Homo sapiens: one gene and its partners. The protein of the gene in region 2 interacts with the protein of the main gene of each other region in a pairwise test. Each region holds a gene or a part of one and is shown on either strand. Other genes may lie near its edges.

Region 1 (7,761 bases), on a different chromosome or scaffold from region 2:
CTGGGCCTCACGGTACAGGTAGACAAGGCTCAGGAAGTGCACAAAGAACTGGAGCATGACGGTGAGGATGGTGTACAGGTTGAAGATGTTGGGCAGGGGCCGTTCTCGGGAGAGGGTCTTGAGGGGCTGCAGCAGCAAGGCGGGTGGGGGAGTCAGGATCTGGCTCACTTGGGGCCACCCTGCCCACACAGCAGGCAGTAACATCCCCTGCCTCCCGGGAGACCTTGTGTACAGCCACCACCAAATCCTGGGGGATTCCATGGGTCAGCACCAGTCCCTGGATCCCTGCCTGCCTCTCACCCCTGAGCCCAGGGCTGCCTCCCTGGCCCCGGCTCCGCCATCCAGGCTCCCCATGGCAGCCACAGGGGCCTGAGAATCATGAAGCAGATCCTGCCCTCCCTGGAGCCCACGGGACAGGCACAGTCCCGCCCAGCCAATCTCCCACCCCCTCCAGCCACCGGGGACTCCCTGCGTCAGCCCATGCCTGTTTGGGGCCTTTGTGTCCAGTTCCTGGCCGCTGGCCCCCCTGGTTCTTTACGCCTTGGCCTGAGTGTCGGTGTCGCACAGGCCTCCCCAGCTGTCCACCAGCCTGTCCTGTGTAGCCTATGACCCACTTAGTTGTTTTTTTACCCTCTTGATGATTGTTCCTTGCTTGTGGGGCTCTGTGGGGCCCACCCCTGGGACCCCTACCTGTGGACAGGTGTGGACGCCAAGCTGTACCACCTGGAGGGGTCTGGGAGCCTCAGTCCACACCTGCCCTGCCAGCATTTCCTGAGCCATCCCAGCTACAGCCCCCATCTCTGGGGCCCTGGGTCCTGTAACTTGGGGATGACAATTCCCGTGCCTATATCAGCCTGGCCCTGGCAGGCCCATGCATCCCTGGCCTTCCAGCACCTCTGGGGCCCACCTTGGAACGGGAGATGAAGAGGAAGCAGCCGGCCAGCAGCAGCCCCTGTAGGGTGGCCTGGAAGTCACTGAACTTGACTCCCTCCAGGTAGAGGACGCTCTGGCTGTAGGCCAGGATGAGGGCATTGAGCGCCAGGATCTTGAACATCTGTAGCGTGGTCACCAGCGTGCAGCGGCCCTGCTTGATCACGTGGCAGACTGCAGGGTGGTGGGGAGGCAGGTGTGGGTGTGGGTAGGGGTGCCAAGGGGGGAATGAAGGGAGGGGGAGCGGGGGCAGGCAACTCACTGCACTGGATGGATGAGAGCTTGGAGGTGAAGGGTGCTGCGATGCTGGCATCCCCCAGTTTCACAATGGGCGTACTCTCGTCCTCGAGGTCTCGCAGCACCTGGCTCAGGCGGTCCTGCAGGGTAGACAGCAGGCTGTCAGCCCTGGCCAGGATGGGGTGCAGCACCTCCCCTCTTGGGACTCACCCTCTGGGAGGTTGGCTGCTCCTCGGAGGGAGGGAGCCCCGACCGCTGCTTGGCTGTCCTGGAGGTGGCTCTGATGCCACTGTTGCTCAGGGTTGGGCTGTCCCGGGGCCGCCGTCGCCGCTCGACAACCCGCTCAGGGGCATTGGCCAAGAGCGCCACACCTGGGGGGCAGGAGGGTGTCAGACCCGGAGGAGCAGGCTCCACGGAGGGGAAGATTGCTGGCTTCAGAGCCACTGGTCCTGAAGTCCCCCAGCTGGCTCCCGTGAGGACAGTTCCCAGACTTCCCCATTTCACCTGACACCCTAAGGAGACCTCAGAGAGTGCCCGTGTTGCTTTCTACAAACTACTTTAAGAAAACAAACCACCAACAATAAACCCCCACAACAAATGCAATGAAAAAACACACAACACGAGATAGGTCAAAACTAAACTGATTTTGGCCGAGCGCAGTGGCTCACACCTGTTATCTCAGCACTTTGGAAGGCTGAGGTGGGCGGATCACCTGAGGTCAGGAGTTTGAGACCAGCCTGGCTGATACGGCGAAACCCCGTCTCTACTAAAAATACAAAAATTAGCCAGGGGTGGTGGCATGTGCCTGTAATTCCAGCTACTCGGGAGGCTGAGGCAGGAGAATCGCTTGAACCCGGGAGGCGGAGGTTGCAGTGAGATGAGATCACACCACCGCACTCCAGCCTGGGCGACAGAGCGAGACAGTCTCAAAATAAAACAAAACAAAACAACCTAAACTGATTTCAAAAGAAATAGCCAAGGAGCATGATTCTAGGAGGCAAACAACACTCAATAAATGCTTTAGTAGATAAAAGCAGATAAATATTGGAAAAGCAAAAAAACCAACGTAAGATTGATCTTTAAAATTCAATTTAACACCTGAGTTCTTGCAAAAAAAAAAAAAGAAAAAAGAAAAAAAGGCCAGGTGAGGTGGCTCACACCTGTAATCCCAGCACTTTGGGAGGCCAACACAGGCGCATCATCTGAAGTCAGGAGTTGGAGACCAGCCTGGCCAACATGGTGAAACCCCATCTCTACTAAAAATACAAAAATTAGATGGGCATGGTGGCTGGCGCCTGTAATCCTAGCTACTTGGGAGGCTGAAGAAGGAGAATTGCTTGAACCCGGGAAGTAGAGGTTGCAGTGAGCTGAGACCGTGCTATTGCACTCCAGCCTGGGCAACAAGAGAGAAACTGTCTCAAAAAAAAAAAAAAAAAAAAAAGGCAGGGTTCGGTGGGATGCAGTGGTTCACACCTGTAATCCTAGCACTTTGGGAGGCCAAGGCGGGTGGATCACTTGAGGTCAGGAATTGGAGACCATCCTGGCCAACATGGTGAAACCCCATCTCTACTAAAAATACAAAAATTAGCCAGGCATGGTGGCACGTGCCTGTAATCCCAGCTATTTGGGAGGCTGAGGCAGGAGAATCGCTTGAACCCGGGAGATGGAGGTTGCAGTGAGCCCAGATCGTGCCATTGTACTCCAGCCTGGGTGACAGAGCAAGGCTCCGTCAAAAAAAAAAAAGACAGGGTCTTGCACTGTCACTTAGGTTAGAGTGGATCACACCACTGCCTTGAACTCCCAGACTCAAGTGATCCTCCCGCCTCAGCCTCCCAAAGCACTGGGATTCCAGGCAGGAGCCACAGTGCTCAGCCATCTGTGTGCTTTTGACAGAGATCTGGGGCTATGAACCATCTTCATGGCTTCAGCTCTGGGTTTTCTGAGTCACTCTCCCAACTTGTTGCCTCTCTCCTGGCCTCTGGCCTCCGCCCTGCTCTGTTCCTGGGATATTCGCATCCCTTCCTGCCCTCAAAGCCCCTGACCTTGCCACCCCCTCCCATCCTCACAGGAATTAGTGCCCCCGTGGCTGTCACCAAGGGCCAGGTCTGTCTTTCTAGCTCAGTGACATGTCCTCAACACCTCGTCCACAAACGAAATACCCTAGCCCACAGCACTCACCCACGTCAGCATGCTTCAGGGCGCCCACGTCGTTGGTGCCATCCCCACACATGAGGGTCACGTAGCCCAGCTCCTTCAGGCTGGTGATGACAAACTCCTGTATGGGCGGAGACAGGCTGAGCAGGGGCTGCGTGCCTACCGCTGTGCCCCTGACCCCTAGGGCTGTGCACATACCTTCTGCTTGGGAGCCACACGGGCGAACACCTGCACATGGGGGATGAGGCGGAGCAGCTGCTGGGGGTCGGTGGCCTGCAGGTGGGCCAAGCCGTCGCCTGTGAGGCACAGTGCGTACTCCAGGGCCAGTGCCTTTGGGGAGCCCCGGGCCAGGGGCAGCACGATGCTGCCGTCAATGGAGCGCCACTCGCACTGCCGGCCTGCGGGCAGCACCTAGGGTTAGGGCTGGGGGCTTGGCTGACCGGGCTCAGAAGCACCCTCCCTCCACTCGGACCCCAGCACCAGCCAGTCTCTCCTCTCTGGAGCCCGCACCTCCCTACCCACCCAGGTGACCCCCAGCCCTTCTCTGGGGACTCCACAAAGAATGTCCCTCAGGTGCACAGGGTGGAACCAAGAGCCTGGGGCCTGAGCTACTTGCCTGAGAGCCCGGGACACAGCCAGATTAGAACCTGGGCAGTCTGACCCCAGCTAAGCCATGCCCCCACCTCATGCAAGGCCCCCTAACCTGAAACACACAGAAGGGGGCTATTGCGCTCTCCTTGGGAAACCCCACACCAGGCCCTCACCTCATTTATCCCTGCGCCCGTGGCCTCTCTGAAATCCTGTTTTCTCGGGGCTGGGCCCCCTCCCAACTCTGACAGGGCCCCTGAGTTCTCAACATCTTCTTGCTCCACTTCCCCTTTCTTGCTGGCTGGCCCTGGCTTGGATGCTGGGCGCTGAGGATGGCCAAGGGCGGCCCGCCAGCCCTCCTGGCACTGCCTGCTCACCCTGGACCATCTCAAGCTGAAGGGCAGCACACTTCCACCTGGCTTGTGCTGCAGCTGTTGCTAGACCAGCTTCGCTTGTCAATCAACAGTTCTGCTCATCCGCTCCATGCCACCTGCCCACAATCCCCAGGCCCTGGAAGACCCCGGTAGCTGGGGCTGGGACAGGGGGAGGCCTGCGACCAATAGAACAGAGGGAGGGCAGGGACCGAGTCCTCTGAGAGGTGGCCTGGAGGTTCCGGAAGCTGCTCTGGCCCAGACCTGTGAATGTTTGCTGCCAGCAGCCCTGTGGCAACACTGCTCCATGTGGTTCTTCTTAGGGCCCTGTCAACACTCATGCAGGTCCTGAACTGCGTGCGCCCACAGGGGCTTCACCTCTAGCTCTGGGGCAGGTATCTGGTAAGCCCCACACCTCTAGCTGGGAGGGGCTGGGTCTCTATGTCTGCCTCTTCATCAATCTGAATCCAGGGCATTGCTCAAAGAGGTCACTGGGGAGAGGTTGGAGCCTTGAGCTCTGGAATCAGGCTGTCTGGATTCCAATCCTTAGCCATGGATTGGAAGTGACCTGGGCAAGTGGGTTCACTTCTGAGCCTCTGTCCCTTCTCTACAAAGCAGGGCCCCGAGAGCTGACCCAGCCAGCTTCCTCCTCTGTGGTGTGGGGAAGGCAAGCCACCCCGTGTGGTGCAGGATGGGGTGGAGGGACCAACGCAGTAACACGCACGGAGCGCTCCGCCTGGGGTCTGGTCAGGCTGAGCACTGGGCAAACTGCCATCAACTGTGGCTGAGGATGCCAGCAGTCCCTGTGCTCGGGAAGGGAGCACTCGGTACATGGGCAGCTTGCCGGGCCAAAGAGGGTGTGAAATGAGGATGACACTGAGGATGGGGAGTAAGCGTGGTAGGAGCAGTATCTGCCCATGAGTGCACAGGAAACCCGAGCTGGCAGTCAGACTATCGCCTCATTATGGTAAATAAACACCTACATGCCGCACATCCTGGGACCTGCGACCCAGTGAACGCTCACATGCTGTCCGAGGTGCCCAGTGGGCCAGGGCTGTGATTAGTGGTGCCAGGCATTTGAAGACACTGTGCTGCTGAGGCCTGGTACACAGGTGGGCTGTTGCGATGGGAGCTGTTCTTGGACTCAGGGTCCCCCTTCCCCACTGTGGGCCAGGCTAGGGCCTCACCTTTCTCGGAGGGAGGCTGCAGGATCAGCGTGTGGGCCTTTTCAATGAAGTGCAGCTCCTGGGCCACGTGGCATGCAGTGAGCGGGTTGTCTCCCGTGATCATGACCACCTTGGGTAAAGAGGGGCAGAGGCTCAGCATGGCACCCTGGGGCCAAGCTCTAGGCCAGAGACAAGGCTGCCAAGTCTCCTTCTAAGGTAGGCCACAGTGGGAGATCCTGGGCCTCTAACCGAGATGCTGAATGGGCTTCCAAGGGCCACAACCCACCCCCACCCAGGTCATTTTACACAAATGACACGTGTATGTGCGTCCTTCTGAAGACACCCTTAGCTTGGATTTGCAATACAAATGAACAACCTGCCCCTGAGGTGGACCCTTTTGGCTTGGTAGCTGCCCATGGGGGTAATATTTCAGCAAAGAGGAGGATGGGACCATGACCTCTGGGCTTGGTGGGGACTAATCACATCACCCATGTGACCCAGAGCCATCATCCTCTGAGACGGCTCACTCACCCCTTACACCCTAAAAGACACCCTAAGTCCCAAAATAGAAAACACAAGCCACCAGAAGCCACCAGGACAGGCAGACAGTGCCCCCCACCCAACTCCCCAGCCTCAGCTTCCTTCTCTCCAGGACGGCGGTGGAACGGGGAAGTGGAGAGAAGTGCCCCCATCTTCCCATGATGCGGGGAGTGAAGGGAGTGGTCTGTGGAGGAGAGAGGAGCCAGCACAGGCGGGTCCCAGAGTGTCCTTGGGCCAGTGGCAATGTTAGCACCTGAGCTATGATCTTGCTCAGCTAAAACATGCAGCCTGTGAGACTTGGGTGCCCACCCCTACCACGAAGCTGTAATTGTCATCTCCTCGCCTCTATTTCCCATGCAGAGGGTGGAGCCGAGCACCGTCCCATACCCGGTGGGACGCATTCTGGATCTCCCGGATCACGGCCTTGGAGTCAGCCTTGAGCGGGCAGGAGACCACAATGAAGCCGACGAACTTGAGGCTGCACTCCAGGGCCTCCCGCTTGACCTCCCGGGCCTGCGGACAGACAGGGGCACCCTCACCATCTGTCCCTCCCTCTGCCCACACTCTGCATTTCCTGAGCTCTGACCATGCGCTGGGAGCCAAGGGGACAATGGAAGGCCCTGTTCCCGTAGTGGGCACATGCGAGGGTTGGGAGGGGAGAAATGCCAGGAGGGTACCAGGCACGCTTGAGGGGTGGGATCTGGCAGTGACTGGGGGGTCTGGGTCCCCCGAATGTGGCTCTATGTCCTGCTTGCGGACATGGGCACATCACAGAGTCCCTTGTGGCTCAGCTTCCAAGTCAATGAAGTAGGGACTCTCCCAATAATGTTGGAGTTTAGCCAGGAACTCTTACTCACTGGGGCTCCACCACATACCACAGACTGGGCACAGACCCCTGGCCTTAGGGAGCTCACACTGCACCAGGGGAGACGCATGATCAAGAAAGTCACAGAAATCGGAGTGCTGAGTGCCATGAGAGAGGAGGTGAGAATGGAATCCAGAGAGGGTGGAAAGGCCTCAGAAGTGGCCACTATGAAGGCGATGAGGACCTGTGTCACTGGGAAGGGGGCTCCAGGTGCAGGAACGGGGCAGAGCATGCAGGCTGTGAGCTGTGGCCTGGGCTCTGCACACAGTACTGCAACCTGAGGCTAAATTCTGGAAGGATCCGCAGCTGTAGGGTGCAAGCAGAAAGAACGAGAGCCCAGGAAGAAGCCAAGCGGCAGATGTGCCGGTGGTGGAGGCGGAGGGTGGGCTTTGTGGAGGATGGATGGGTGAGAGGGCTGAGGATGCCACCTAGCCCTGCCCAAGACCAGGGCAAAAGAGTAGAGCTAGGGACACACCAGGACTGGGGCAGGTAAGCCCTGCGTGTGCTCTGCGTGAGCCAGGACTGGGTGGGTCCCCACAGCAGTGGACAGACTGAGTGCCATTTGGAGTCTCCAAAGGTAGAAGCTGGAGGCGGGGCAAGGAGGACAAAATCACAACCATTCAACCTGGCACTGTGGGACACAGGAGGTGACTCAGGGAGGAGCTGACGGGCCAGGCACATGGTGAAGGCAGGGGGAGCCTGGGCCCGTACCTGCTGGTGAGTGAGGTGTCCCAGCTCCTTGTACCCCAGCGCCAGGACGCGGGCTCCTTCCCGGGAGATCTCGGTGTGGATGTGGTGGTAGTCGGGCGGGCACTGGGAGAACTGCAGGGAATGCAGGGGGATGTCACGGGCTGCCCCGCGCCCCCACCCCTTGCCCCAGGCTGGGGCCAGCTCACCATGGAGTGCAGAG
Region 2 (7,761 bases):
GCAGGCAGTGGGCAGGCTTTGGCCCGCAGGCCATAGTTTGCTGGCCCCTGCTCTAGAGGAACAGCACAGGCTTCTCTGTGGCTTCCAGGCCCTTCATTGCCAGCTGTCCTCCGCAGGTGGCTGTTGTCTGTGGAACCTCCCCTGCAGGGTTACCCCCAGTGTGCTCTCTGGCCACAGCCCCATCTCGGTTCACGGAATCCCGCAGCCTAAGGGAGTCCAAGTCTAGAAGTTATGTAGAGCAGAGATCACACACATGTAAATGAAGAAGTGGTCTTACTATTGTGATTGTAACAGTCCTGCAGGATCCTGTGTGTGTCCTTTTCTATAAAGCAAGACCATGTCTCCATAAAGAAAAACATAGGAAGAGAGAAAAATGGACCTAAAAGAACAAGAACACCCTCTCCCTGGGTAACTTTCCTGGGTTTCTGAGCATTGCATTCATAGTCAAGTTTCTTGCAAAGAGCCATTCTCTTTAGAATTTAGGACACAGCTGTGCAGCATCCCCCAATTCATGCCCCACAGAAGGCTCTGAGTCACATGACACCCGGACATACATAATTCTGAACAAAGGGGTGTGGCTTCTGTGTTCATAACCTGCCTCTCCCCTTCCCACAAGGCTTTCGGGGAGATTGTAGGTTGTGTCCTATTGGGCTGCTTGACACTGAAGTCCTGGCCCACAAGACGAGATTGTGAAGAAGGCGCTGCCTTCAGTGAGTGGAGGAAAAATGTGCCTTTTCCACATGGTCTACACACAGTCAGCTCAGGGGGTCGGCTTGGAAGGGGGCCCTGATCATTGTAAATACCCTATGGCCTCCTGTGCAGGCGTGACAACCTGCCAGACCACATGGTGGCCAGGACAACACAGAGGAAAATCAAGGGTGACCAAGAAACACCTGTGGCAGCAGGAGTCCTGCTTTCATACGAAATTTCACAAACTTCATGAGAATCTTGAGTTATGAAATAGGAAGGGGAATATGTTTAGCCAAGATGGAAAGTAGCCAGATAACGGAAAGTAAAGCCTAGAAATAAATCTGCATTTCTAGGTGGAACCACATTACCAATGGTGCTTTCTGAGACAGGTGCTAGGATTCTGCTGTTTCTGCACACAGCTTGGAAGAGAGCTGGCTTTGCAAACCTCCCAGTTTCAGGAACGCTCAGCTGCCGGGCACAGTGCTGCAGCAAGTCCACTGCATGGGTCACACGAGGACACTGATGCTGAGAGAGAAAGCACTAGATAAGGTTGGTCAGGCACAGTAAGATAGGATAATTCCCGTCGTCTTTAGAGGAGCAGGGGTCTAAGTTCTCGGAGGTAGAAATGAACCGTTCTGAAAGATTCTGGCCCAGAGAGAAGGGAAGGATCGCCACCACTCTTGAGTCATCTGTGGTGCCCCAAACACTGTGTATCATTACCACTGCCAGGTGGGAGGAAAACAGTGGAGATGCAATGGTATCACAGACGGCACTTACAATCATGAGGGGACGAAAGGGCTTCTAGTAAAGTGAGAAACGCCTAAATAAACATCAGTTCTCCATCGACAGAAATTGAGGTGGATCAAATAATAAAGTGGTGGGCAGATGGAGATTTAGTCATATTTTGGAATTATGAGAAAGTACAGGATGTTTCCTCATGGATGAAATGAATAGTTAAAATATTTTTTTGTATAGATAACCCATTTATATAGTTCAAAATGCAAATCCAGGAGTCCCCCTTGTCCCCATTTCATTTTGTGTGGCTTCAGTGACCTGAGGCTAGCTGCGGTCTGAGAACCTTAAGTGGAAAATTCCAGAAATAAATAATTCATAAGGTTTAAGTTGCGCTTGTTCTGAGTAGTGTGATGGAATCTCTTGCCGTCCTGCTCACCCCGCCCAGGCTGTGACCCTTCCCTCTGTCCAGCGTGTCCGCACCATAGATGCTCCCCGGGCCATAGTCTCTCAGTAGCCACCTCTGCTGTCAGAGTGAAAATCCGTGGTACATGTAGAGTCTGACACCACCCGTGGTTTCAGGCATCCGCTGGGGCCTTGGAATGAACCCCTTTGGGTGGGCAAGCACTGCACTGTAAAAGGGTGTGCGGTGGGGAGTCTCCCTCTCACTGCCGTCCTCAGACCCCGTTCTGCACCCATAGAAAGTCCATGCCTGCTTTATTCCTAGACATATTTAATGCACATATAAACAAGCACATCTTTATGTCCTTTCTTACTAAATTCAATTGGTAGCGCACTCTACACAGAGGTCTGCATCTTGCTTGTTTTTTCTCTTTTTACCATTTATGGTGGGGGATTTTCCCATCCGTGTATAAAGAGCTTCTTTTTTATTTTCTTCAAATGCACAACATTCTGTTGTAGTTCAGATACCCCTTAATATCTTTAACCAGTTCTTATTGGAGGACTTTTGCACAAAATTGTTTATTTGAAATAAACAAAAGTGTAGCAAATGGTACCTTGTGGGAATCATTATCCTAAAAAAAAAATCAATAAAAAGCTGTCTCCTGTTAGAAATTGCGTTGGGGATTAGAATGAGAAGCAGAGTCCAATGGTTAAGGACACTCAGAACTTCTGGGGTCGCTCCGGAATTTTTTGTATTTTATGCCGGTGAGGACAATACTGACCTATTGTGGCAGGTTTCATGTGAAAGCCGGTAAGTCTTGAGGTAATCAGAGAATCAGCACGATCAAGTGCAACTAGACACCTGAGATCCTTAAGCATGTTGTGTCTAATGTCGCCTGAAATCTGGATCTGAATTAGCCCTCCCTCGCGAGAGGAGGATGAGTGACTGAAACAAATCCTTGCCAGGCACCCTGCCTCTGGGCCCCCATGAAAGCTGAAGCCTTTGCTATGTCCTTTCAGGGAGTGGTGTCCTGGCTGTCCTGATGATAGCTGCGTTCCTCCAACCCATACGAGATGTTCAGCGGGAAAGTGAAGGAGAGAAGAAATCAGTACCTTTCTGGTCCACTTTACTGTCGACTTTCAAGCTATATAGAGATAAACGTCTGTGCCTCTTAATTCTGCTGCCGCTGTACAGTGGATTGCAGCAAGGATTCCTCTCCAGCGAATACACAAGGGTATGAACGAAAGTGAGGGCCGGTGGCTCAGGCCATGCGTGGCATCACTGCCTTGCCTGTGTCTGTACCTGCAGGACCGCAGAGTGTCTCAGGCCACCTGCCCAGGGCTGGGGCTGGAGGGAGCGGGGTCCTATGCTCCCAGTGCTACCATAGCTGAGTTTATGATTCAAGGTCTCAACCTCCAAGTAACTTCCAACTCACAGGAGCTTCCACTTCTTGTCTCAAGGGAGAACGTCTTGCTTGATCCGTGTCTTCCTGGGGAAGGAGCCGGAACAAGTGGATGGGCAGCTGCCGCTGACTCACCCCACAGACACTCATCGGTGTTACCCCTGCCTGGACCTCACCCTGCACTCTTACTTTAGAGTTTACATATAGGAAAAGCATTAAGTCCATGAATACCACCAAAATTTCTTATCTCTCTAGTTTTTTTTTTTCTTTCTTTTTTTCTTTTTTTGAGATGGAGTAACACTCTTGTTGCCCAGGCTGGAGTGCAATGGCGCCATCTCAGCTCACCGCAACCTCTGCCTCCCAGGTTCAAGCGATTCTCCTGCCTCAGCCTCCCAAGTAGCTGGGATTACAGGCGTGTGCCACCACGCCTGGGTAATTTTGTATTTTTAGTAGAGACAGGGTTTCTCCATGTTGGTCAGGCTGGTCTCAAACTCCCAACCTCAGGTGATCTGCCTGCCTCGGCCTCCCAAAGTGCTGGGATTACAGGCATGAGCCACTGTGCCTGGCACCTCTAGTTTTCAAATCATGCTTCACAATCTAAAAATCGATGTGGCTCTTGAAGCTTCTGCTCCATCCACTCCTGCCACCTTCTCCCCTCAAGGTGAGAGAGGCGGTGCCCCACCTCAGGGTGCATAAAGAAAGAAGCCACTCCTGGAGGCTGTTGAGAGCTGGGGGCCAGAGCTGGACCAGCAAGGGCCTGTGTCTGGCAGAGGCTCTCCTTCCGGAGGAAACTTCTCTGCTCCAGATCCCTCCCAGGCAAGGCTGCCAACTTAGCAAGATAAAAAGCACCTCAGCAGGTAGAATTTGAATTTCAGATAAACCACAAATGTCTCTCCAGGAGTATGCCCAGGCCATAGTGGGTGTCCTCAACTTTATCTGGCAGTGCTACTTTTAGGACAGCCTTGATGGAGAATCTTAGGAGCTTAAAAGAGTAGAAACAGGATAACAGAAAGGTCTACTTGGCGTTTTGGGGACAGCCCCTCCTGCTCCTCCACTGGACTTGTCCTTGTCCCCCCTGATGTGGCTGTGGCTGGTCTTCTCGTCTCAGTCCCTGTTCTGCGTGCCCGCCCTTGAGGTCGCCCGTGATGGGAGTGTGGTGCGGTGGGCATGAGACACATGTGCAGCCGGCTGCTGGGCTGCTCTGAGGCCCCGGAAGAGGTGTCAGGGCAATCTTTTCATTTTCTCTTTCTCTCTCTGTTTTTTTTTTAACTCTCTTTAGACCTAACAGGTAATGATTGGCCCCAGCAAGGGCAGGGTGTATTGGCTTCCATATAAAATAGTGCCCATTTCACAGCAAATAGTGAGAAATACATGAGAAAGAATTTTGTCTGCAGTTGTCCAAACTGCCTCCTTTTAGTTCTCCCCAAACAGGATTTTCTTACAAACACCAGCTTTTCTCCTGCATGGGAGCCACAGAGCCTAGAGGAAGGTGTAGGCAACACTGGCCTGCTGGCCATCTCAGAGCAGATGTTCTAAGCACCCGACTGCAGCTTTAGCTTGAGCACGGGAGGCCTGGGAGCGTCCATGACGTGGCTCTGCACCCCTCTCCCCAGTCCTATGTCACCTGCACCCTGGGCATCCAGTTCGTCGGCTACGTGATGATCTGCTTCTCGGCCACTGACGCGCTGTGCTCCGTGTTGTATGGAAAGGTCTCGCAGTACACGGGCAGGGCTGTGCTGTACGTGCTGGGTAGGTATCAGCGTGGGTCCCATCCCAGCTGTCATAACGATTTGCAGTAGCAAAAGCGCACAGCTCACAGTCAGGACAGGCTGGAAAAGTGCCCCTGAAACTGCTTTGAAATCAGTAACGCCCTGTAAGATGCATTCATTCTTTCAGTCCTTTCTTCACCCCCTCAACAAGCAGGAATCAGATCTCTCCCCAAGCTGGCTCTGGGCAGGCACTGTGCTCGGCATGAGGCCACACAGCAAGTGCCTGCTCCGAGTGGGCACTCGGTGTGGTGACCAGGCCAGGGTGGGGCAGGGCAGGGTCTCTGCAGGTGCAAATGAGGGACACGAAGCCAGTGGTGAGGCCATGGGGTTCACGGAAAGACACGCTGGGGTTGGGGCAGCTCTGTTCCACATCTATTCACACAGTGGATAAGGACAAGACTTCTAAGGCCACAGACTCCTCCCTAAACACACAGCACCTTCCATTTTTCTTGGGAAGGGAAGGGAAGAGATGAGTCAGAGATCACGTGAACAATGAGGAATGCAGGCACTACGAAAAACAGCGCCTGGCATGTCAATGCCCCAGGCAGGGCTGGGTGTGGGGGCGCAGCCAGAGGAAGGGCACACGGTGAGCATCTGCCAGGGCCATGGAGCCTGGAGGCTCTGCCTGGGGTTTCCTATCCGTCTTCACGGCGCCCTGTGAAGCAGACAGTGTTCCCTTACAAATAGGAGATCATGGAGTGCAGAAGTGGAGGGACTTGCCTAAGGTGGCACAGCCCTGGGGCATGCGGTGTGGACCTGCCTTTCCGCTGACAGAGACCCTGCTCTTCCTCTGTGGCGTCTTGAGCGTCAATGGGCAGCCTCATTACTGCATCCTAGAGATGCCACAGCCTGTGGAAATTGGGGTCCCAAATCTGTGACCTGCTGGGACGAGTCACAAGGTGGGGCCCACAGATGCTACCTGCCTGGGGGGTCTGTGGCCTCCTCCCTTTTGTCCCCATGCCCCTACTTGGAAGGCTCAGATGAAACCATGGGCACACTTTGTCCTACCCCCTGGCTACTCGGAAAGGTGCTGGGATGCTTCAATTTATACCTAATGAGAAGGCCCTTCTCTTTCTGACTTTAAACCCTCTTAGCTTAGGGGCAACCTCAGGCCCAGACAGGGTGACCTTCCTTCCCAACATGATGCCAGACCACACCCAAGGCCCTCCAGGCTGAGGCTGCGGGTCACGCAGCAGGTGTATGGTGCAGAGCATTGATTTAGAGCTAGCAGCACGCATACACATCAGCTCACAAATTAAATGTCAAGGTTCCAACTAAAAAGACGACTTCCAGAGCATTAAGGGAACATTGAGCATGAAGCAAACATTGAGACAGTTCCAGAGGATGGTTGAGACGGTTGAGATGGTTGAGACAGTTCCAGAGGACGGTTCCAGAGGACGGTTGAGATGGTTCCAGAGGATGGTTGAGATGGTTGAGACGGTTCCAGAGGACAATTCCAGAGGATGGTTGAGACAGTTGAGATGGTTGAGACGGTTCCAGAGGACGGTTGAGATAGTTGAGATGGTTGAGATGGTTCCAGAGGACAATTCCAGAGGACGGTTGAGATGGTTGAGATGGTTGAGACGGTTCCAGAGGACAGTTCCAGAGGACGGTTGAGATGGTTGCTCCAGCACTGACCCACCTCCAGGCCCCTCCAGGCCATGATGATGGCCCTCATCGCCTGGCGGTTTCCCCTCTGCACCCCCAGGCGCGGTGACCCACGTGTCCTGCATGATTGCCCTACTGCTGTGGAGACCTCGTGCTGACCATCTGGCAGTGTTCTTCGTATTCTCTGGCCTGTGGGGCGTGGCAGATGCCGTCTGGCAGACACAAAACAATGGTGAGTCCCCAGCCCAGGCCCCTTCCTCTGTGGCAGCAGGGGGCGGTCCCTGGCCAAGGCAACTGTGGGGCTCATTAGATGCCAATGGGCCAGAGCCAAGAGAGATGAGTTGGGAGAGACGGGAGGGCCAAGAGGGCTTTGATGTCGCCTCTGAGTCTGATGTATTTTCTCTGAGCATTTATTCAGATTCATGATGCAAAACTGGAAAACCACCCAAGGTTCCTTCTGGGCACCATTCCCTCAGGATGATGTGGTTTTGCTTAAGTCAAGTCGCCCATTCGAGCTGGGGTGCAAGACTCTCTACCCCTAGGACAGCAGTCTCTTCATGACTGAAAACCTTTATTCAGATGTGCTTGTGAGCAGAGGCACACTCCCGTGTACCTGGGCCTGGGGTGTAAACATGCAGAGCCTTCCAAGGAGCCCACGGGACGATGGGAGGTGGCAGTGTGAGCCACAAGCCACACACATCACAGGTCACTAGGGTCAGTGTCTGTGGACGGGGCTCTGGGGCATCCTGGGCAGTGGTGGGTTTTCTGGGAGCAGCAGGTGGGGGCCCTGTGGATGTGGGGGAGCAGGGGAGGCCAGGGTGGGCTTCCTCCTAGAGGCTACATCTGCATCACGTATGGGCTGACCACTGTCCAGGTGGGGTGGGGTGCAGGAGGAACCAGGGCAGGAGGTGGCAGGGATGCTCCAAGGCCTTGCTGGGGCTGGGGCCCCTAAGAAGGCGGCCTGGGGGGAGTGCAGAGGAGTGGGGTGGAGTGGCAAGTCGGGTCCCCAAGTGTGGGGCCAGCATGTGGGGGAGGGTCAGATGCACCTAGGTCACTGGAAGCAGCAGAAAGCGCTGACACCCAGGAGTGACTGGGAGCTATGTGGAGTCGGCCCCGTGTCACAACAATCAATTCCAAAAGGCAGGTGACAAGGTCCA
Region 3 (8,322 bases), on a different chromosome or scaffold from region 2:
GGTATTACAGGCACGTGCCACCACGCCTGGTTAATTTTTGTATTTTTAGTAGAGATGGGTTTTGCCATGTTGGCCAGGCTGGCCTCGAACTCCTGACCTCAAGTGATCCACCCACCTCAGCCTCCCAAAGTGCTGGGATTACAGCCGTGAACCACTGCACCCGGCCATGGCTATTATTTTTAAAAGATTGCTCCAGCTGCTTGGTGGAGAGAGGATTAGAGGGGGAAAGACGAACAGAGGAGGACCAGTTAGGAGGCTGCTGCAGGTAGGTAGGTGGTGATGATGGTGGCTGGACTAGGGTGGCAGAGGGAATGGAGAGAGAGGACAGGGCAAATCCAACTGTATTTTGTAATGAATTTGTTGTAGGAGCAGAGGAAAGGGAGGACTCAGAGATAACACCTAGGTTTGGGTCTGAGCCACAGTAAACAAAGACATGCCCCAGGGACATCAGAGGTCTCTCTGCATGGGGATTAACAGGAGAGGAGGAAGCCCTGACATGTCCAATAAACTCAATCATCTGGAAGATAGCTCAGTAGGTGTATCCTTGACCCAGCATTGTGGGAGAAGATATGTCTGGAATGTGTATATCTGCGGGGAGTGAGAAAGGAATGTCAGCAGTCAGGATGTCTGCAGATGGGGAATTAGAAATCTGTCTTAGTGTTGGTGGGACCCAGTTCAAAAGAGACTTCAGAAGGATTGATGGTTTAGACGGGTAATCTATATAGGACCTGTTTAGATGAACTTCAGTGGAATGAGGGATGATGTATTAGGATAATAAGGTTAGCTGTAACAAGCAACTGAGCTGTAACAAAGCCACTGACACTTCTCACTCATATTCTATAGTCCAGTGAGGGTCTAGGGGACAGGGGTAGCTCTGCTCCATCCATTCATTCAAGCCTAGGTTCTTTCCATTATGTGGTACATATGGCCTCTAAAATTGTCACAGAATGGGAAGAGGGAATGCAGGTTGTATGGAAGATTTTTAAATGAGCCCAGCCTAGAAATGGCGCACATTGCTTCTGCCTTCATTCCATTGTTCAGAACCTGATCCCATGGCATCCGTTTGACTGCAAGGAAGCTGGGAAGTGTAGTTCAAATTTGGGAGGTACTGTGCCCAGAAAGAGACACACAAATGTTGGTGTGTGTTGTGGAGCACTAGTAGTTTCTGGCGCAGGCAGGGAGAATGGCTGTGCATCTTGTAGGGGTCGTAGTAGTGTCTGTCCTGGGCTGGGTTGGGAGTGTACTCTCTGAGAATACCTTGGAAGGAAGCTGATATGAGAAGATGTGTATGAGTGGTGCACACCCATGTGCTTTATGGCTCAACAATCATTCCATTCTTTCCCATTCTCAAGGTCTTTCACTGGATAAGATCTTAATTCTCTCACACCTTACCACTGAAATAACCTTGTGAATGCTTTATCCTCTACAATTTTCCCCCATCAAATCTAACTGGATATTATAGTCTAACTAATCTTCCTAAGACTTGGCGTATGTCATGCAATCCCTGTTCAATAAAAACAATAACAATTTCAACAGCAGCAGCAATAATTTGTTGAATTACTGTGTTGAGCACTTTGAGTGTATTATCTCAATATATCTCGATCTTTGTAACAAGCCTGTGATGTTTCATCATCATTCCCTGTGTACAGATGGAGGGACAGGAGTCCTGGGTCTAGCTGTGCTAACACAGTAGCCACTAGTCATGTGCAGCTACTTAAATTAATTAAATTAAATTTAAATTAATTTAAATTAAATACACTAAACTTAAATACATTAAATTTAAATTAATTTAAATTAAATACAATTAAAAATTCAGTTCTTCAGTCACACTAGTCACATATCAAGTATTCAATAGCCACCTGTGATTAGTGGCCACCATTATGGAGGGTGCAGATATGGAATATTTTCTTCCAGGCAGAAAGTCAATTGGATTGGACATCTGTGAGTTAGGGGCACTTGCCCAGGGTCACAGCAAATGGTGAAGCTAGGCCTCTGACCCCACCTGAGTCTAATGCTCTGCAATAGCTCTTCATTGTTTCCACAATTTAAAAAATGTTTAAGCCTGGCCTTAGCCTTGTACAACCTGGTCTAGTACTACTGTTACATAATTATTTCTCTTTCTTTTCTTGCGCAATCTCACTTTCCAGCACAGCAAGCTTGCTCACTGCTCTCCCATACTCCTAATATGTCCACTCATAATATTTTTGCTCTCCTCCTTCTGTCTGCTCAGCTAATGAATTCTCCCCTGACCTTTAGGTTCAGATAGCTGAAATAGCTCTTGAAGCAGTTTCGTCTCTTCCATTCTCTCTGCTTCTGCCTGGACCAGCTCTGAAGCCCCTCATCCTCTCTTGCCATGGCAGCCTTCTGCTGCTACTAATTCTACTTCCTGACATTTATTGAGTATCTACCATGTGCTAGGCACTCTTCCAGGCACTCCTCATCACAACACTTTGAAGTAGGTGTTACTGCAGTCTCCATTTTAAAGACCTGGTAATTAAAGCACTGTGGGGTGAAATTTGTCCAACTCATCTCTCTGCTTCTAGTGTTTCACAGGCAGTTCGCCTTCACTCTATTACTCTGGCCATAGTTCTAAAACACAGAATTGTGAGTTTTCTCCCCCAGCCCCAAGGGGAGGGGGACAGCCTTCTTAACAGAGCATGCAAGGCCCTTTATGTTCAGAACCTTTCTAATCTCCAAACCCGCTACTCTACCTTCAAACTTGACATTCCAGCCACAAACGACTTACAGTTTCCCAAAGCGGCCGCTTTATTTCTTCCCTCTGCGCCATCACACGTGCGGTTCCCACTGCCTGGAGTACTGTCCATCCTGGCCAGCTCTGAAGCCATCCATGGAAATGCACTCCGGACCACGGGGCTTGCTCCCTCCTCCACAGGACCAGCACTCACTCTCCACCGGCAGCTCCTAAAGGAGGGCTGCTGCTGAGCTCACAGCCTTGACATCACTTCTCATTAAAATACACACTCCAAGATTCAAAATTTAATAGGCAGGGGTGGGGCTGGGTTTATTTTTTTATTTTTAAAGAAGCTCCCAGATTATTCTAGAGTGAGGCAAATGTGCTTAACACTGGTTTACATCCCTTGTTTGGCAGTTAAGCACACCCTGTCTAGATTCCTTGTGTATAATTGCTTTTGTTTTTATTTTATTCTTACCTTCATTCACTCACACTCACCTATTCAACAAACATTTATTAAGGGGTCATTATATGCCAGACATGCTTTTAGATGTTGATGTGAACAAAACTGGCACTGTCCCTGCTCATGAAGTTTATGTTCCAGAGGGGGTGTGGTGGGTGGGATAATAATGGCCCCCAAAGATGTCCACGTCCTCATCCCAGAACCTATGAATATGTCACCTTCCACGGCAAAGGGATTTATTTTGCTGATGTGATAAAATTAAGGATCTTGCGATGGGGAGATTATCCTGGACTATCCCCTCAATCACAGGGGTCCTTAGAAGGGAAAAGGAGGAAGAGGGAGTTAAGGCATGTGGGTAGCCTCACTCTAGAAGCTGGAAAAGGCGGCCGGGCACGGTGGGCTCACACCTGTAATCCCAGCACTTTGGGAGGCTGAGGTGGGCGGATCACCTGAGGTCAGGAGTTCGAGACCAGCCTGGCCAACATGGTGAAACCCCATCTTTACTAAAAATACAAAAATTAGCTGGGTGTGGTGGTGGAAGCGTGTAATCCCAACTTCTCGGGAGGCTGATGCAGGAGAATCACCTGAACCCAGGAGGCAGAGATTGCAGTGAGCTGAGATCACGCCACTGCACTCTAGCCTGGGTGACAGAGCAAGACTCCGTCTCAAAAAAAAAAAAAAAGTCAAGGAAACTGATTTTCCCCTAGAGCCTCCAGAAACAAGGCAACCCTGATGTCCCCTTGATTTTAGCCCAGTGAGACCATTATTTGGATTCCTGACCTACAGAACTGTAAAATAATAATAAGTTTGTGTTATTTTAAATCAGTAAATTTGTGGTAATTTGTTACGGCAGCACACACACAAAAAAAACTAATGCAAGGGGTATTGGTTATGTTTTGTGCAGGTATATGATGGGCCTCCCCATGTGGATCCTTAGTGCTGTGGCAGAGCCCTTGTTATTGTGCTGGGATTTTCCCTCCAGCTCCCGGCCGGAAGCTGGGCTCACGTGGGAGCTCAGTGCCCTCCTGCTACAGATCTGTCTCTTCCTTACAATGGTATGATCCCGAGGGTCAGGGTGAGGGGTTTGGGAGGATAAGGCTTGTGCTGATAAAAGGAAAGGTGAGGTCCGTTGCAGTGGCTCAAGCCTGTAATTCCAGCGCTTTGGGAGGCCGAGGTGGGAAGACAGCTTGAGGCCAGGAGTTGGGGACCAGCCTGGGCAATATAGCGAGACCCTATCTCTACAAAAAATAAATAACAAAAAATACTAGCCAGGCGTGGTGGCACACACCTGTAGTCCTGGCTGCTTGGAAGGCTGAGGTGAGAGCATTGCTTGAATCCAGGTGTTGGAGGATGCGGAGCTATGATGGCGCCACTGTACTCCTGCCCGGGCAACAGAGTGAGACTCTGTTTAAAAAAAAAAAAGTAGGGATTTGTGGGGAGCTGTGCGTGAGGATAGAATGTATAGAATGTTTGCAGTCAGAAGGTGATGGTCGCAGGGGTTCCCAGACTTTAGTGTGTGGAGAAATCCTCTGCGATATGGTGGGAGGGAACCTGGTTGATAGAAGGACGGGCGGAAGGAATTCTATTCACAGCGTACTCTAATATTTCTTAAGTTTTACCTATTAATTTTTAACAAGAAATTTTAATTTTAATTTTAAACGAAAATACGCATCGTACTCAGAGGTAAAGATTTTTAATCCTCGCGGTTCGCTCGTATAAAGGCATATTTCCGGTCCCTTCCAAGGTCCAACAATCCGGACACGGCGGGTCTGGGGATGGGCCCAGGAATCCGCCTTTTTAGCAGCATTCCCCCAAACGACACGGCAGCTTCGCAAAGCGGCGGTGGCGTCTGCGGTTCCGGGCGCGGGCGGCCTCCGGCCGGGGAGGGCGCTGTGCGGGCGGCGCTGGGGGCGGGCCGGGGGCGGAGCGCGGGGCGCCGGCTGCTCTGGCGGCTCCCGCGGCTCCGGCTGGCGGCTTCGGGCCCTGCACCTGTGACTCTCGGCCGCGCTCGCCCTCGGCCCGCCCGGCGCCGCAGCCCCATGGCCCCGTCCAGGCTGCAGCTCGGCCTCCGCGCCGCCTACTCCGGCATCAGCTCCGTGGCCGGCTTCTCCATCTTCCTCGTCTGGACGGTGGTCTACCGACAGCCGGGGACCGCGGCCATGGGAGGGCTCGCAGGTACCCCGGGACGCTGGGCGGCGCGGGGCGGGTGCGCGGCTGCGGGGCGGGCGCCGTCAGCTGCTCCAGGACGCTCCCCGCGAGCGGCGCTTCCCCGCGGAGCGGGTGGAGTGTTTACTCGAAAACAGCGGTTGGCGGCGGCAGGCCCCACGCGGGCCCGGGCTCCTGGGCATTCCTGGGTGCCTCTGAGACCCGATGCCCGCCCGGGCGCCACCTGGGGGTGCCGACGGCCCGCCACTGCCGGCTGCACAGACCTGCCGCGCCGCCCGGGTTATCTGTCACGGCACACTGCCTGTCGCCCTCCGCCCAGTTGCCCCACGACAGTGTCCCCTCCGCGCGCCCGCGGCGCTGGTCGCCTCCTATCCCCAAACACACACACACACACACACGCACACACACACGGTTGTTCTGAGGGATCCCCTGCCCCCCAGGCGCCCCTTCCCTGGGTGCTGGGTGAGGGCAGAGAGGGAAGAAGTGGGAAAGGAAGAGGGCTAGGGGTGGCTGGGGAAGCCCATCTCCCTCCTTCCAGAGGGCTCCCCCGCAGAGCCCTCTGCTGAGACCCACAGGGAGGACGGCGTTAGGGATCTCATAGAAACTGGACATTCTCTTTCCACCCATGTTGGTGCCTTTTTGCTACCCGTCTGCTGTGGCTCCTCAGCCAAGCTCTGCCAAATCCTGCAGGCCAGCCGCCCTTTCTGTGCTTCTGGGAGGGAAGGGGAAGCATCGGTGCGCTGATGGGGGCTCTGGGCTGACCAGTGCTCCTTGTTGTGCACATTTGGGCTCGCAGTTTAACCTCTCTGCGCCATAGAATTGGTATGAAGATGAAAAATATTATCTCTACTTTCTAACATTTTAAAAAATGCTTTCTATGTGTCAGGCACTATGTTAAGCAACCTGCTTCCCTTATTTCATTTAATCCTTACATTAGTCTCATGAAGTAGGCCTTACGATTATGTCCATTTTACAGATAAGGAAACTGAGGCCTGAAGTTAAATAAATTGCTTACCCGGGATTACACAGCTACATGAAATAATATGTGTGGGAAAGGACTTTGGGAAGAAAATACGTATAATACTTTTACATATGATGATTATATTCCATTACTAAAATCCTCGGCCAAAAGAACCCTAAATGGAATAACTAAAAATAACTAATTTACTCACTGCCACAGGGAGTGCTGAGTGCCATCCCTGGGTAGAGTCGCAGCATGAGGTGGGGTTAATGCCTTAGAAGAGGGGCATACAGGGCCCCACCCTACACAATGCCAACAAAGCACTGGGTCACCAAGAAGGGGGGATGGGCACCCTGGCTAGGGTGTTCTCTGCCTGCCCAGCTGCCTCACCACCTGTGGGATCCTGAGGACAACTGGCCCATCTCTGCGCGTTATCTACAGAGCCCTAGTTCCTTTCCCCACTGCACCCCGCCACCCTCCATGTTTGTCAAGGTTCACTTCTCCCTGCCACTTTTTTGTTTCCTATTGGCCCTGTTGCTTTCCCCTCTGGAAGGCGGCGTCAGAGCCCTATGATTGCATTGCGAAGACCGAAGGCAAGAGAAGGATGAGCAGGGAGGGCCAGCCTGGGATCTCAGCTGGTTGTGTTGAGTCTGGCCTGGTACAAGTGGAGGTGAACCCTACCTGGCCGTTTGACCCTATCCTGGGCCACAGTTTCCTCATCTATTAGGAGTGGGAGGAGATGTCCCCAAAAGACATCTGACTTCCCTCCAGATCTGAAATCTTGCAGTGCTGCCCACTCCCTGAGTCTCCAGCTGCCTCCTAGAGGGCTGTGGAAAAGGCCTTCTTTCTTATACTCTAGGGAGTTGCCTGGGGTTTTCTTCCGACCCAACTCTGCCCTCTCTCCCTCCCCACAGGCTTCCCTTGGCCTATGAGGCAGGCCAGCTGTGGAGCTGCCTTCAGAGAGAGGCGCTAGGGCAGCAGCTCGCTAGGGCAGCAGCTCGCTAGGGCAGCAGCCAGCTGGAGTAGGGTCCTGGTATCTCCCTGATGGTCTGATCTTTGACAGTGGCTGTGGAAGAGCCAAAACTGCTTGGTAGTGGTGGTGGTGGATGGTGGCAGGGAGAGGGGTTGCCAAGCCTGGGCCTCCGACCTTCCCCACCATGAGTGAGTTCTCAGAGGGTCTGTGGCCAGTCAACCTTCTTCCTCTTTTGGGGGTAAAGTGTCAGCAGATTAACTAACGTGTGAGCACCCTACTTCTGACTCAGCGTTTTATAGCTCAGAATCTGCTGAGTCACCCAAGGGTAGCCCCAGCATGCTCCTTCTCCTGTGTTGGACCAGGCAAGGACTGATTGGATGTGCCAGTTTCTGGAGCAGAGTCATGGAGCCCCTGGGTCTGGTGGGCAGAGTGTTCACGGGTGGGGATACCCTCTCCCATCCTGATGGGTACCTTCGAAGAAGTGGCTTTGGAGAAAGGCAGTGGCAGAAGCAAGACTGGCTTTCCTGGGGAGGCGGGCAGGTGTGGGTTGGATCTACCTGGTCTGGCTTTGCTGTGGGAGTCCTGGGGGAAAACACAAACTCTTGCTCTGGGTTTAGTAGACCAAGGAAAGAGAAAAAGAAAAGTTGCTCCTGAAGTCTAAACAGCTCTATGTTTTTCCCAGGTGAGCTGTGAGCAAGAGCCCTGGGGCTCCAGGACTGTCTTCCTCCTAGGAAGGAATAGAGGGGCCTGACCTAGGCCCAGTGTCCTTCTTGTCTGCATTTACCCTGTGGGATCCCCCGGGTGTCTCCTGTCTCCTCACCTCCAGCCCAGCCACTGGGGATGCTTTCACCGCCCTACCCTATGCCTTCCTTACCCTTAGCTTATCGGCTGTGAGCCAATAAGCTCACATGGCTAAGCAGGGGCTCTGCTCCTTGAAACAGGTAGGATGGAGCAACGGTGTGGTCTGGTGTGGGCTTGCAGCCAGGTGGGATTGGGGACCTGTCCATTCCACCCCGAGTTTTATAAACCAGGCTTCCTAGAGTCCCCAAGTGTGCCAGGGAAGGGTA
Region 4 (7,778 bases), about 130 Mb from region 2:
CCCCTTGTAAGAGGCTTTTGACACCCCCTCCTTACATATAGTCTTCCTGTGAGCCCCATCCAAACCAATCCCTGTAAGTGAGTCTTCTCTTCTGGCATTAGTGCAAACAATTATTTATTTGGGACATGCCTATGGTTCTGCCAGTGGGTTGTTTGGGGAGTGGAGACAGAAGGAGCTATCACATCCACCTCAGATGTTTGAAAGACCTTGTTTGGCAGCACCTCCAGTCCCAAGTAGTGTTAGGAAGGTTATGAGGGGAAAGGAGGGGGAGGGGATGTAGAACAGACCTAGACTGCCTCCCCCAACCCCCATCACGAAGGAGAGTGGATTGACCCCAACACTCACGCTGCTGCCGCTACCCCCGGTTCCCCCAGGACCCTCAACGCCCTGGTCACTCTTCTGTTCCACAGCAAGCTCTGCCTCCAGGATCCTGTCCACAGGCATCTCCTCGGGGGCTCCCCCAGCCCCCTCCCCATCCCCATCCTTGTCCTTTCCCCGCTGACGCTCCTCCTGTACCGCTGCAGGGGGAAGGGGGAGAGAAAAAATGGAAAGTCAGCAGCCAGCCATGAAGGGGTTCCACAAATATCCTTACGGCCTCATCAGGATCTCATGGCCCTTGGGAGATATTTATAGGAATTGGGGAAGTCACTAGAAAGGGTGGACTGGGGGCAGCCCTGAAGGAAGGGTTATAAAAGGGCAGGTAAGTCAGTCGGGAAGGGTGAGGTAGGTAAAAGAATTAGGGAGGAATTTAAATGGAGAGCCTACTACATGGTTAAAAAAAACATGCCAAGATTCAACCTGAGAAAGCTGATTGAAAAAAAAAATTTTTTTAAATAAAATATGCCAAGAAACATGCTAAGCACATTTTACCATTCACTCAATTATCATAATGATGCTGGAAGCATTTATTCTCATTTTTAAGATGAAGAACTCGGGGTTCAAAGAGATTAGTTTGCTTAAATTCATATAATACATGGCAGGTCATACAACTGACTCTAAGTGTGTCTGAGTGCAAATCTTGTGCTCTTCTGACTCAACAAATAGGCAGTGAAAGGAGCACTGGCCTAGGTCTTTGAAGATGTGGGTTCTGATCCCAAACCTGCCTGCCACTCCTTTGTTGCATGACCTTGGGAAAGCCAAGCCTCAGGCTCATCTTCTCTAAAGTGGGTGTTTTGACCAAGATATGCTCTAAAGTGTCTCTCAGAATCCTAGGAATCTGACTTAAGAAGATAAGATGGAGACACAGAAGAAGGAAGGGAAGCCCTGAGGTCTTCAGTAAAGTCTGTAAGCTTAAGAGTGCCCAGTCCCAGGAGTTAGAGGAAAGATCACAGATAACAGGAGACAGAGACCAGAGAAGGTCCATGGAATCAGAGGAGGAACCACTCAGGTTAGAAATGGGGAGACAGCCCATCATGGCTAAGGAAAAGTTATCCTATCCTAGGATCAGTCTAGGGAGGGGTCATATGTGCAGGCCACAGAGGCCTAACCATTAAGAAGGAAACTCAAGGGCCAGAACAGGGTAACAGGGAGGAGAGCTGCGAAGGGAGAGAGAAATCAAATATCGCCCTCTAGAGGAGAGAGAGCAGTCCACCCTTCCAGAGAGGTACACAGTCTGAGTGGGATAAGGGAGAAGGGCATGTGGTCTAAGACGCCTGGGCAGGGCGGGTCCTTACCCTCCCTCTTCATGCCAGTGGCCAGGCACTTCTGATAGCGGCAGTACTGACAGCGGTTCCGCTGGCGCTTGTCCACTGTGCAGTCTTTGTTGTCCCGGCAAGAGTATGTAAGGTCTTTGCGGATGGTGCGTTTGAAGAAGCCCTTGCAACCCTCACAGCTGTAAACCCCGTAGTGTTTGCCTACAGGGAAAGGGGAGGAGCAATAAGAAGGTTGCATGGAGACACCTTCACCATTTAGTCTGTTTCCAATCTCCCCCTAGCAAAACTTAAAGTCCTCCCTGTTTGCCAAATACAGAGATAGGGAACCAGGAGCTGAGTGATGATCCAGTCCCAGTCTCCTCACTGTTCAGAAACCCTACACGCTGCTTCCTTTTCCCTCTGACCTTCCCCCCAATCGCGTCCTACATCTCAGCTTCAGCTTCTTTACTCCCATCAGGCCTCCCCCAGGTCACTTGCTCTGACCAAACTCCATAAGCCCTGGGAATCCCACAGGTGATGATACATGGCCCAGACTCTCCCTCTCTGTTCATCCTCTGAGCCACATACCTGAGCTTCTGTCCCCGCAGATTGCACATAGCCGTTTGCCAGCCCCAGGGCCACCTGGAGGGGGTGGACAGTGCAGGCCCCGGACCCCTAAGACTGGTGGCTTCACATCTTCAGGGGGGCCAGACCCACCCCCAGGGAGTGACACTGTTGAGTTAATCTGGGATGGGGGAAATAGGGAAGTCACAGGAAGACTTATTGGGAAGCAGAATGTCACAGAAGTGATGGAAATCATTCCCTACCACTAAGCAAGGCCCTGCAATGCACATTCCAGAGGCTGTCATTTACACTGCAGTCTATGTGAAAGGCCATCCCTGGAGCACAACCCCAAAGTGAATAAACAGGCCCCCCCTGAAATTGTGCAACACAGTGACCCTGAAGGGCAGGTGTCTTGGGAAAGCAGATGGGATCAAAAGGGCAGAAAATCAGATAGATGAAAAGGACATCAAGAATATCAGAATTAGCCGGGCGTGGTGGTAGGCACCTGTAATCCCAGCTACTCAGGAGGCTGAGGCAGGAGAATTGCTTGAACCCAGGAGGCAGAGGTTGCAGTGAGCTGAGATTGTGCCACTGCACTCCAGCCTGGGCAACAGAGCAAGACTCCATCTCAAAAAAAAAAAAAAAAAAAAACACACACACACACACAAAAACAAAGAATATTAGAGTTCTTTTAGGGGAGGAAGCATGCACTGAAAGATCAGTCACCTCAGGAAAGGCAAGGGGTCTCATAAAGACCACAGGCCTGACAAGGTTAGAGGATTGGAAGGTCAATGGGCCATGGGGAAGTTCACACAAGGATCTGGGGTTACAAGGAAAACAAGAAAATGAAAGTGGCCAGGCAGTAAGTTGGTCACAACCTCTCACCTGGGGGCTGCTGACAGGCCCGGAGAATCCTGGGGGAGCTGGAGGGGGCAGACCAGGGGACCCCATGGAAGAACTGATGACTGGAAAGGGAGAGCCCAGTGGGGGTGGTGGCATCGGGGGTGGGGGTGGGGCCCCAGAGCCTCCAAGGGATGGAGCTGTTGAAGGGGGTAGGGGTGGCCCAGGAGGAGAAGGGGGAGGGACTCCCTGGGGAAGGGGATTTGGGGAGGAGCTGTCTGGGCTTCGGGAGTCTGAGGGAGGGGTATGTACAGGCACACAGACACACAAGAGACAGAAGAGACAAAAAAAGAAAATGAGTCTTCAAACATCCAACTAGAGACTTTAATTCTCTAATACCCCACCGTGCCGGACCCAGCCCACTCCACCCATCCCCAAGTTCAGAGACACCCTGCTGTCAAACAACAGTGTAACTCCGGCTGGTCCGATGGTAGTGGGTTATCAGAACTTATTAACATTTGTGTCACTAAAATTGGTATACAACCTCCCACTGCTATATTTGACTGGCTAAAAAAACCCAAAAACAGCGTAACTCCTCATTGTGGTGAGAGGAGGGAGTTGACAAGGAGAGGAGGATAGTTCAGGTGAGGAAAATTTTCCAACCAATCCATTTGAATGAATACCAGGTCATCCCAAAGCCACACCTGTCTCGTGGGTGGGGCAGCACGTGGGGTAGACCATCGAGCCCCTCTATTCCCAGCGTAAAGCCAGGTAGCCAGAGCGTGCAAGGGAAAGAGACAGGCAGGAGAGACCCCTCCTAAGACGCAGGATCTGCCTGTAAACGCCCAAAGTCCTGAGGTTTAAGAGGAATCGTGCCCTTCCCAGGCCCGCGACCTCCGGTGCCCAAGGCCTCAAGCGGTCACAGCTAGGAGGGCGGAAGCTCCCCTTCCCCGCCCCGCCCCGGGGGGGAGGGTGCTAAGGCCCTCGGGAGGGAGGGGACGCGTGTTTACAAACAAGGGGGCGGGAGCGCAAGGAAAAGAGCACCGGGGGAGGGTGTGGGGGAGGGGTCGCAGATAAAGCGGTCACTGGCTCGCCTGCCCTTCTGCTGGGGCACTCACCCCGCCCGCTGTCGCCCATCCCGTCCCGTCCAGCCTCCCCTGGCTCCGGCTCCGGGGTTTGTTGTTCTCCGCCTGCCACCGCCGCCGCCGCCGCCGCTGCGGGATCCAGCCAGGGCCGTCGCCGCCGCCACCGGGACGCGACCCCACAATGCATTTCTTTTCGCACCCCCACCGGCCCACACTGCCCTGCGGCATGCCGCTGAGGGAGGAAGGGCGGGCGAGCGGCCCAAGACATGATCCCTGGCTGAGAGTAGGGATACCGAAGAGGTCCCAGGGATTCCCAAGGATTGATCGGAGGATTAGCTGAGCACGAGGAAGCCCCTGAGAGAAAGACTCTGGCCTGGATTGGGTCGAATTAAGCCCGTCGCTCTGCTCAGTACCAAAATGACAGCGCCAATGTGGCAGCCATCTTTGTACAGACGGGAAGTCTCGGCGCGAGTTCCCGCCCCCTCGTCTAGTTGGAAACCGAGGAGGCGGTCTCCTCCGGCCTGTTAGCCCGCCTCGCCCACCCTCCCCTCAAATCACCTCCACACTCGCGCATGCGTGTCAGTGCAGGATGGATTCGTCGCTACCGGAGTGCCGCCATATTGGTAAAGGCATTAGGGCGAAGGTGGAACGGAACTTCCTGTTCTCGCGGGATCTAAAGGCGGGACTGCCACGTCCAAGCAAACCGGGAAAGGAGAGGATCCCGGAGCCGGTGAGAATTCTCTGTTTTTTCTCTACCATCCTTTCCAGGCCTTTTCCTCACCTAATGAGTCGTAGAGACGAGGGCCCAGAGAGTCTGTAAAGTGGCTGGTGAAAGATTAGTGTCCCAGGGCCCTACATCCGGGAGGTGGTTCGGGATAAAGAGAACTAGTCTTGGGAACAATGTAGGTGGGAACTTAAGGGAATGGGAGAGCGGCCCATAGAGGTGGACGGAGGGCGCGATTGGAGTAAAGCGGACCCTGTGTAGGTATAGAGTTGAGTCAAGTGGAGTCACTGCCTCTGTCCCTCTGGTCAGCGTGATGGCCAGAGGCCTGGGGGCCCCCCACTGGGTGGCCGTGGGACTGCTGACCTGGGCGACCTTGGGGCTTCTGGTGGCTGGACTCGGGGGTCATGACGACCTGCACGACGATCTGCAAGAGGACTTCCATGGCCACAGCCACAGGCACTCACATGAAGATTTCCACCATGGCCACAGCCATGCCCATGGCCATGGCCACACTCACGAGAGCATCTGGCATGGACATACCCACGATCACGACCATGGACATTCACATGAGGATTTACACCATGGCCATAGCCATGGCTACTCCCATGAGAGCCTCTACCACAGAGGACATGGACATGACCATGAGCATAGCCATGGAGGCTATGGGGAGTCTGGGGCTCCAGGCATCAAGCAGGACCTGGATGCTGTCACTCTCTGGGCTTATGTGAGTCTCCAGGGGATGGGAGAGAGAAGGGCTGGTTCTGGATTGTTGGGAAACTCCACAGTACTTGACCTTGACTCTCCCTCACCAGGCACTGGGGGCCACAGTGCTGATCTCAGCAGCTCCATTTTTTGTCCTCTTCCTTATCCCCGTGGAGTCGAACTCTCCCCGGCATCGCTCTCTACTTCAGATCTTGCTCAGTTTTGCTTCCGGTGGGCTCCTGGGAGATGCTTTCCTGCACCTCATTCCTCATGCTCTTGGTAAGTAACCTCTGACTTCTACCTCAAATCTAACCTATTTCGTTCTTTGGAGGAAAAGGGTTCTTTCTCCTTTATGATCCCTGACCTTTCGATATTCCCCCAAATACACACTCATTGTGTCAGATATTCCCTCATCTGGTTTTCCCCCCTTCTTCCAGAACCTCATTCTCACCACACTCTGGAGCAACCCGGACATGGACACTCCCACAGTGGTGAGGAAGAGACAGATGGGGATGGGAGTTGGGGTGCTGGGGAAGGTCCGTCTCTCCCTATTCCTCACCTCCCGCACTTGAGGAGGAGGAGTCTGGAATGCACATCTCCCTTAATGTCTCAATGCCTCCATTCCCAGGCCAGGGCCCCATTCTGTCTGTGGGACTGTGGGTTCTCAGTGGAATTGTTGCCTTTCTTGTCGTGGAGAAATTTGTGAGACATGTGAAAGGAGGACATGGTCACAGTCATGGACATGGACACGCTCACAGTCATACACGTGGAAGTCATGGACATGGAAGACAAGGTGAGCCCAGGAACAACTTTCCTGAAAGCTGACTTGCCTGCCTCAGAATCTCCTCATCTTATGGCCCTCAGGAGGGAGAGGACATGTTGGAAGATCTGTTCTCCACTCTGACCAACTCTTTTCTTCCCTCAGAGCGTTCTACCAAGGAGAAGCAGAGCTCAGAGGAAGAAGAAAAGGAAACAAGAGGGGTTCAGAAGAGGCGAGGAGGGAGCACAGTACCCAAAGATGGGCCAGTGAGACCTCAGAACGCTGAAGAAGAAAAAAGAGGCTTAGGTAAGGGCCAGAGTTGGTGATAAATTTGGGCAAGGGACATCATCACAAATCACATGGAATATGTGCTGTGGGTAATGGCAGGTATCTGAGAAACACTAAAGGACTGGGTGTAAAGTGGTCTCTGAGGGGAGGTGTGAGAATAGCTGACCAAGACTGGAACAAGTGGTGATGGAAGCCTCTGATCATTTTCTCTTCTTGTCCTGTACAAGACCTGCGTGTGTCGGGGTACCTGAATCTGGCTGCTGACTTGGCACACAACTTCACTGATGGTCTGGCCATTGGGGCTTCCTTTCGAGGGGGCCGGGGACTAGGGATCCTGACCACAATGACTGTCCTGCTACATGAAGTGCCCCACGAGGTCGGAGACTTTGCCATCTTGGTCCAGTCTGGCTGCAGCAAAAAGCAGGTTGGTGATGTCTGCCAAACACAGCTGCCTCAAACCCTTTATCTCTCCTCACTCACCCTAAACCCAAACAGCCTCTTATTAGTTCCAAACAATTCATACTGTCATTGACAAGTCCTCTAGAAATGAGGGGGAAGAAGTTCTGGTTACTTTGTCCTTTAGCTCAGTATTTCTTAAACTGGTCTATAAACCATCTGAATGGTTTAGTGGAGTCTTACACACACACGCCTACTCAATCAGAAAGTCTGTGGAAAGGACCTCTGATCTCTTAAGATTTTTCAGAAATTGTCTATTCTAGACTGCTCCCTCTTCTCTTTTTATTTTGATGTTTAGTTTCCAAATCCATGTCCCCTATACCTATACCCCACCAGCCACTTCTAAACCACTGATAATCTTTAGCTATTGGTGAGTGCCTTTTTCTCTTTTCTGCCCATCAGGCGATGCGTCTGCAACTACTGACAGCAGTAGGGGCACTGGCAGGCACAGCCTGTGCCCTTCTCACTGAAGGAGGAGCAGTGGGCAGTGAAATTGCAGGTGGTGCAGGTCCTGGCTGGGTCCTGCCATTTACTGCAGGTGGCTTTATCTACGTAGCAACAGTGTCTGTGTTGCCCGAGCTGCTGAGGGAGGCATCACCATTGCAATCACTTCTGGAGGTGCTGGGGCTGCTGGGGGGAGTTATCATGATGGTGCTGATTGCCCACCTTGAGTGAGGGGTGGATAAACTACCCCTGCCCCAAACCTCTACCCCTAACTCCAGGTCAGG

Evidence for each region.
Region 1: the proteins of UNC93A (region 2) and ATP13A1 interact in binary tests that used the Homo sapiens proteins (3 or more experiments, as listed by UniProt).
Region 3: the proteins of UNC93A (region 2) and SLC48A1 interact in binary tests that used the Homo sapiens proteins (3 or more experiments, as listed by UniProt).
Region 4: the proteins of UNC93A (region 2) and SLC39A7 interact in binary tests that used the Homo sapiens proteins (3 or more experiments, as listed by UniProt).

Annotation. Positions count from the first base shown.
Region 1 is NC_000019.10:19,646,222-19,653,982, forward strand, and holds part of ATP13A1 (endoplasmic reticulum transmembrane helix translocase), read right to left. Parts: coding exon 7,748-7,761; intron 7,674-7,747; coding exon 7,563-7,673; intron 6,500-7,562; coding exon 6,374-6,499; intron 5,577-6,373; coding exon 5,468-5,576; intron 3,720-5,467; coding exon 3,520-3,719; intron 3,443-3,519; coding exon 3,346-3,442; intron 1,539-3,345; coding exon 1,378-1,538; intron 1,308-1,377; coding exon 1,193-1,307; intron 1,105-1,192; coding exon 908-1,104; intron 127-907; coding exon 1-126. UniProt on the Homo sapiens protein: Endoplasmic reticulum translocase required to remove mitochondrial transmembrane proteins mistargeted to the endoplasmic reticulum.
Region 2 is NC_000006.12:167,301,075-167,308,835, forward strand, and holds part of UNC93A (protein unc-93 homolog A), read left to right. Parts: intron 1-2,844; coding exon 2,845-3,059; intron 3,060-4,840; coding exon 4,841-4,976; intron 4,977-6,704; coding exon 6,705-6,836; intron 6,837-7,761.
Region 3 is NC_000012.12:47,768,111-47,776,432, forward strand, and holds the start of SLC48A1 (heme transporter HRG1), read left to right. Parts: upstream 1-5,127; 5' UTR 5,128-5,194; coding exon 5,195-5,330; intron 5,331-8,322. UniProt on the Homo sapiens protein: Heme transporter that regulates intracellular heme availability through the endosomal or lysosomal compartment. In macrophages of the reticuloendothelial system, is the heme transporter for heme-iron recycling.
Region 4 is NC_000006.12:33,196,089-33,203,866, forward strand, and holds the start of SLC39A7 (zinc transporter SLC39A7 isoform 1 precursor), read left to right. Parts: upstream 1-4,778; 5' UTR 4,779-5,157; coding exon 5,158-5,568; intron 5,569-5,656; coding exon 5,657-5,825; intron 5,826-5,983; coding exon 5,984-6,037; intron 6,038-6,174; coding exon 6,175-6,339; intron 6,340-6,471; coding exon 6,472-6,612; intron 6,613-6,821; coding exon 6,822-7,018; intron 7,019-7,452; coding exon 7,453-7,725; 3' UTR 7,726-7,778. Other genes in the region: RXRB (retinoic acid receptor RXR-beta), read right to left, coding at 346-518, 1,674-1,853, 2,220-2,376, 3,081-3,328, 4,154-4,388. UniProt on the Homo sapiens protein: Transports Zn(2+) from the endoplasmic reticulum (ER)/Golgi apparatus to the cytosol, playing an essential role in the regulation of cytosolic zinc levels.